Linked DNA regions of Homo sapiens. The protein of the gene in region 2 purifies or fractionates together with the protein of the main gene of each other region. This does not show direct contact. Each region holds a gene or a part of one and is shown on either strand. Other genes may lie near its edges.

Region 1 (3,500 bases), on a different chromosome or scaffold from region 2:
GCATACCGTAAGGCACAGCTTCTTCCCCCCGGCTCATGACTCACCATCTGACGCTATTCCTATCCCCTTCCTCCCCGGGACCTTTTCCCCTTCCTCCCTGGGACCTTTTCCCCTTCCTGTTTAAGAAGCCAGGGCTGCCTGGAGGAAGCTTTGTCAGATCTAGTGGAATGTGACCTCCCTGGAATATGTGCCCAGGGGTTTGTCTAAGCAGTTCCAGGCTATGGCCTTTACTCCATCTGGTCCCCATCCCTCTTATCTCTCTCATGTGTGGCTGCACCTGGACGCTTGGACCATAGCTGTCACAGCCCCCTGGGGAGGAACCCACTCCTTGGCCATGTCAGCCTGTGCAATGCAAGGCTCTTGTTTGATCTGTGTGCTGACAGAAAGCCCAGCTTCCTTAAGAACTTTTCATGTGGAACACTTTGGTTTTGAGAAGAAAATAAATCAGAAACCATTAAAAATCTATGATTCACTCTCATTATTAACCAAAACTTGTTCACCTTTATTTCATGTATTATGGGATCCAGCAAAACCCATTTATGGGACCAAAGACCCTGCCTGTATTGTTATTACTAATGTGTATTAGTCTGTGAAAGTCACCAAATCCCCGCCATGTTTTGATGCCTCTCCTTTCTTTTCTGTTCAGTGCCACCGTCCTTTTTTCATTTTCACGTAGCCTTGGCTTGCCTGGTCTCAGCATGCTAGGTTGCGGTTCATCCCTGCATTGCCTTAAAAACATAGTTTTCTGCATTGACTTCTTTTTCTTTTAAAAATAAAACTTCTGGCCGGGCGCGGTGACTCACGCCTGTAATCCCAGCACTTTGGGAGGCTGAGGCGGGTGGATCACAAGGTCAGGAGATCGAGACCATCCTGGCTAACATGGTGAAACCCCATCTCTACTAAAAATACAAAAAATTAGTGGGGTGTGGCGGTGGGCACCTGTAGTCCCAGCTACTCGGGAGGCTGAGGCAGGAGAATGGTGTGAACCCGGGAGGCGGAACTGGCAGTGAGCCGAGATCACGCCACTGCAGTCCAGCCTGGTCAACAGAGCAAGACTCCGTCTCAAAAAAAAGATAAAATAAATAAATTAAAACAAAACAAAACAAAACTTCCCAGGGGAGGGATTCAGTAAATTACAGAGCTTCCTTGGAGTGAAATTTCAGGTAATCACTAAAGCAAGTGGAACCGTGGAGGTGTGGGGGAGACAATTTTACCTGAGAAGTAAGCAAAACAAAATAACCAACCAGAAATCACTGTTGTCATTTGTTGTGATTATTGCCATAACCATGTCAGCTGTAAGGGCAAATGCAAAGAAGTTTTTTAGGGGAAAAGACACTGTCAACTTCACAATGATGCTTTCAGTGTTTGGATTTTACACACTTTTTAGTCAAATAAGGATTTTCTTTGTAGCCACACCAGATGCGAGGAAGGGGAGGGCAGAGGCCCCAGGTGTGGGGCAGAGCTTTGATTGTGTTACCTTTCACCTTCATCGGACCTCTTTTCCTCAGGAGCAGACACTTAGCAGCTGTTTTTTGTAAAGGGGTGAAAAGGGGAATTCACTTGCAAGTTTCTCAGGGAGGAAGAACACTGCACACTAGGAAGTGTTCTCTTGTGGCAAGTAGAGGACCACACCAAGGTGCCGAGGGGGCCACAAAGGAGAGGACGCCACTCTCCTGTCTGAGGAGGCTGGAAGGAGGCGTCTCCTTTGAGGAGGCTGGGAAGAAGAGCAAGCTCCCTGCTAAGGAGGGCCAGGGCTGGGTATGTTGTGCCTGGCAGTGGGGCCAGAGGGCTCCACTGAGCCAGCCATGTGGGTTGGACAGAGGAGGCACCGTGGCCCGGAGATACCTTCACTGCCATTTCCTTTTTGTTATTATTTTCTTTAACACATCAAAAGGGCAGGTCCTCTCTCTCTCTCTCTCTCTCTCTCTCTCTCTCTCTCTCTCTCTCTCTCTCTCTCTCTCTCCCCTTTTTTCTTTCTCTCCTTTTCTCTTTCTCTCTCTCTTTCCTTTCTTTCTTTCTGATTGGGGGTGGGGGTCTTGCTGTGTTGCCCAGACTTGTTTCCAACTCCTGGGCTCAAACCATCTTCCCACCTCAACCTCCCGAGTCACTGAGGTTACAGGCCTGAGCTACTACGCCTAGCTGTTTTCTTCTTAAAGGGCTGCCTGGGTTGCCAGCTTAGCATCTCTGCACATGGGAGGTAGGGGGCGGGCCTTGATTTCTCTGCATGGTAGATGCCGGCAGACTTAGCCTGGCATCACTATGAATGATGCCCTATGCTGGGCAGCCATGGCCCTGTCTTGGAGCCCCTAACAGTTCTGGCTTTTGTGGTTGCAGAACCAGTGCTGTGGCGCATATGGCCCTGAAGACTGGGACCTCAACGTCTACTTCAATTGCAGCGGTGCCAGCTACAGCCGAGAGAAGTGCGGGGTCCCCTTCTCCTGCTGCGTGCCAGATCCTGCGGTGAGTTGGCTTGTGCTGGGGCACAGGGAGCCCGCCCTTCCTGAAGCCCAGAAGCTTTCCTGACTCCTCCAGTGCTCTAGGATACTTCTCTGTCATGGAGGTCTGAGGAGCAGGTGTGCTTTCTCCACACCCTCCTCAAGGCTGCCTCAGCTCTGAAATCCGATATGTGTACATTCTAGGAACACTGCTTGCATGACCCACCCTGGCCTTGGTGTTCTGGGTGAGGCAGGAGAAAAACAGTATTATTTCTACCTGGAGGGCTGTCACTTGCAGCTGGCCAAGAGCTATGAGTGAAATAAGGCCCGCTTATCCCTCTTCCCTGTCCTTTTTCTGGAGCAGATTCCTAGAACTCAACAGTGCACGGGGGCTGTGGGTACACATCATTAACTGGGGAACAGTAGTGGAGAATTATTTTCTTTCTTTTTCTCTTTCTTTTATTTTTGAGACAGGGTCTTGCTGTGTCGCCCAGGCTGGAGTGTAGTGGCATGATCTTGGCTCACTGGAACCTCTGTCTCCTGGGTTCAAGCGATTCTCCTGCCTCAGCCTCCTGAGTAGCTGGGATTACAGGTGCACGCCACCACACCCGGCTAATTATTTTCTGTTTGTTGTTGTTGTTGTTGTTGTTGTTGTTTGGTTTTATTTTAGAGACAGTGTCTCACTCTGTCACTCAGGCTGGAGTGCAGTGGTGCGATCTCAGCTCACTGTACAACCATTGCTTCCCCGGGCTCAAGCAATTCTCCAGCCTCAACCTCCCAAGTAGCTGGGACCACAGGCTTGAGCACCACACCTGGCTAATTTTTGTATTTTTTGTAGAGATGGGGTTTCACCATGTTGCCCCGGCTGGTCTTAAACTCCTGGGCTCAAAGCGATCTGCCCATCTTAGCCTCCCAAAGTGCTGGGATTACAGGTGTGGGCCGCTGTGCCTGTCCTGTCCTTTCTTTACCTATTGGCATTCCCAATCCAAGGCCAACGTCCTTGGGTTCCAGAAGCTGGGTTCTTGGGGTGAACTGTGAAGGAGCTCTGAATTTTGCCTGAACTGA
Region 2 (3,500 bases):
AAATTTTATTAGTTATTTTTGAATGTGTCCAGAACCAGAGTTGTTTAAACTGCCTTAATTTCTCTCTGCTTGGTCCAAGTTGCTGCATCTTTGGCAACGGCTTCCTCAGTAGCTTCCCTGCTTCTGTTCCTTGCCCTCCTTTCTTACAAAATATTTTCAACCAGGAAACAGACAGGCCTTTCTGTCATATAAGTCAGATTGTGTCCCTCCTCTGCTTCCTGTCCCACTCAGGGTGAAAGCCCACATACGAGGGCTTCAAGGCCTGCTCATGATCAGATGCTACCTTCTGTACCTAATCTCTTTCATACTCCCCTGCACCTGCTCCCCATCCAGTCATACTGCCCTCCTTAACGATCCTTAATTTGCTCTAAATGTGCACCCAACAATGGCCTTTCCAAGTTTTGTTCCCTCTATCTGGATCACACTTTCCCTAGATAGCTGCTGTCTTCTCTCCCTTCTTTCATGCCTGTCTTCTAATGTCACCTTATAATGAGGTCTTCAACTTCCCTCACACCTGACACTCCCTGTTAACTTTTCCTTGCTTTAATTTTCTCTTTGAACTTTCTTAAATACTGTGTTTAGTTTTTATCTGTTTAATATCTGTTTCCCTCAAAGAAACTATCAGATGCATGGCAACAGGACTTTGTCTGGTAGTTACCCTAGCACATAGGCCAGTGCCTGGCAAAAAATAGGCAACTGGTAAATGTTGAACAAATGAATGAATGAATGTTATTATGGAATTAACAAATCTGTACATCATCACTTTTATATGATGATCAGCACTCTTTTGCTCTGAAACTTTTGATAATTCTCTATTTTCAGTAAAATACAGACCAACACTTTTGGATAATCTTTGTTGGACTGGCTCCAAATTATCCTTAACTCTCACAGGATAACCCCAAGCACCCAGTGTTCCAGCCACACAGAACTAGTGATACATCTCTACATCAGCCCCAGGCGGTTTCCTTTGTGCCTTTGCACAAAATAGAAGTACTGTGATTTTTTTTTTTAATATCAGATGGCTTTATTTTTCTAACTAACGTAAAGGGTAAGATTTTAGAATTTATGTCCTTGTGTGTGGAAGGCATTGCATGGAGTGTTGAAGCCAGGTGGCTTGGATTTAAATTGTGGCTCTGATATAAATTAATTTTGTTATTCTTTACAAGGTACGGAACTCTAAGTCTCTGTTGCAATATTTGTAAAATGAGGAAAATAATATTTTCTTCATTGGGTTGCTATGAAATTTAAGAGATGCTTGTAAAGCTCATCAGCATAGTATCTGGTATATAGTATGTGCTTAATAAATGTTAGCCTTAGAAATATTAATTTAACACCTCGTGCTGAAATGAGAGGGAGTTGAGGGGGGGTGCATTAGTATTGTTACTGGCCACGTCATCAATGCAGTCCTTGGACTCCACTGCTTCTCTTCGCTTTGTTTGCCTTAGCGGAAGTTGAATGGCAGGTTGCTCCACCTTCTCATCTCACCTAAACAATGAGGGAGCTTCTCTTTGTGAGTGTACCACTCAGCTCATCCAGTAGATGCCTACTGATCACCCAGTATGAGCCCAGTATTGTGCTGTGCCCTGGCAGTAAACAGCCACTTCTCTGAGGAGCTTATGATCAAGTGAGGGAGACAAACACATACATAGATAATTTCACTATAGTGAGCCAGGAGCTAAGATAAAAGCTCATTCTCATCTGTGGTTATAGAAATGAATTTTTAAAAATGGAAAGGTTTTGCAGACTATGTGCCCTGTGTAACATAGTCCATTTGAACAGCCTCAAGCCTGCATTTAAATTAACAGTAGATACACCAAATGATCATACTGATTGTAAAGATGTTTTATGTGCACTACAGAGGTGAAAACAGTTTTGGTTCTCTGGATAATATTGGGGTACCTAAGGAACTAGAAAGTAGGGCTGAGAGGACTAGGCAAACATTTGCAGCCTGTGTACGAAGTCATGAAGTGAGGATAAGCAGAGGTTTAATTCAAATTATTATGTAAGGGTTTGAAATTTGGGACCCTCTAGAAGATATCACTTCAACTTCAGAATTATGAGGCAAGAATAAATTCCAGCCAGCTTAAATGATCAATAATGGAGTCCTGTTTTGTTCTGCTAGTTGAAATTGTTAGTGGAAATAAAGAATGAGCTGTAAGCATGATGGGAAATATCTTACTGGAAGAAACACTTCCAGCTTTGTGGTATATTAGAAAGATTAAGGGCTAGGTGTAAGTCTGGATTCAAATCCTGATGTTTCCACTTGTTATATAAATTAAACAGGCAGCAACTGCTCTGAGCCTTTGTTTTCTTCCCTGTAATGTGGCAGTGATAGTAGCATTCATGGCATTACTGTGGTAATTAAATAAGATCATGTACTAGTGCAGGATTATTGCTCAATGCTATAGTTCTCTTCCCTAAATAATATAAATGCTGGAGAGAAACAGCTGTCTCAGAAATTTTTTGAATGTTCTAATTTAACTTGAGCATGTGGACATTACATAGCCCACGAAGCAAGTTTCCGAACTTAAAAACAACAAGAAAATAAGTATGTGCTAGCCTCCAAAATGCGTGTATTTAAAAAAAGAGTCAAGATTATATGTATTGGAATTGATCTGGCCGTCTGCAGGAAATGGTGATCAGGCCCTGGAGTCAGCCTCAGAGGCTCAGATCACAGCTCTTCTGAGAGGTGACTTTGGGCCAGTTACAAAGTCCATGTGAGCCTCAGTTTCCTCTCTGTAAAATGAAGTGATAGGAATGATAATAATGGTATTTCAGTAGTATTTCTAAATCCTACTGCCTTAATTCTGTGTGTTCATGGTGGGAGGGGAGGTGGTGATAGCAACCATATCAGAATTCTTCACTGGCGAAAGAAGCAACAGCAGCCTGTAATAACAGCTTCTTAAATAATACTCCTTTCTAGTTCTGATGGGCATATGGGAACTATTTCTTTTTCATGACTCACTGGTGACCAGTGATGAATTTTTTTTGTAGTGGTGGTCTGTGGACACTTCCAAAACTGTTGTGTGAAATCGAGTTCAAAACCAACCTATTCTGGCATTCTTACACATTGAATATCATGAAAACACATAAAAGTTCATTTTTTTTGTTCTTCACTACTTGCTCTGCTCTCTTTGATGTGAGAGTCACACATATAAGTTTCTGCTGCTATAGCAGGTGATGAGCCTCATACTGAAAAATATGAAAACAAAAACAAGACTCTTGAGGTAGTCACCATTCCTAGGTGGTCCAAGCTACAGCCCCTGGGGACAGATTTCAGAGTGTTCACAAAGATAACAAGGGACTTAAAATTGCTTAGAAGGCTTATGAATCCAGGGCACAGTCACTATTTGCTTGGCTGAATTCTATTGCCAATGTTTATATTGCCAATGTTTATATTGCTTTTGTAAAATAGTCATGACAAGTCCTCATTAACTAAGATTGTGGGTTGAATTGGCATTCGTCAGCCCAGAATATTGGATTGGGACTCAGGAGCCTTG

Evidence for each region.
Region 1: the proteins of TMEM117 (region 2) and TSPAN14 fractionate together in Homo sapiens (co-fractionation; one large-scale study listed by BioGRID). This does not show direct contact.

Annotation. Positions count from the first base shown.
Region 1 is NC_000010.11:80,509,810-80,513,309, forward strand, and holds part of TSPAN14 (tetraspanin-14), read left to right. Parts: intron 1-2,334; coding exon 2,335-2,460; intron 2,461-3,500. UniProt on the Homo sapiens protein: Part of TspanC8 subgroup, composed of 6 members that interact with the transmembrane metalloprotease ADAM10.
Region 2 is NC_000012.12:43,839,081-43,842,580, forward strand, and holds part of TMEM117 (transmembrane protein 117), read left to right. Parts: intron 1-3,500. UniProt on the Homo sapiens protein: Involved in endoplasmic reticulum (ER) stress-induced cell death pathway.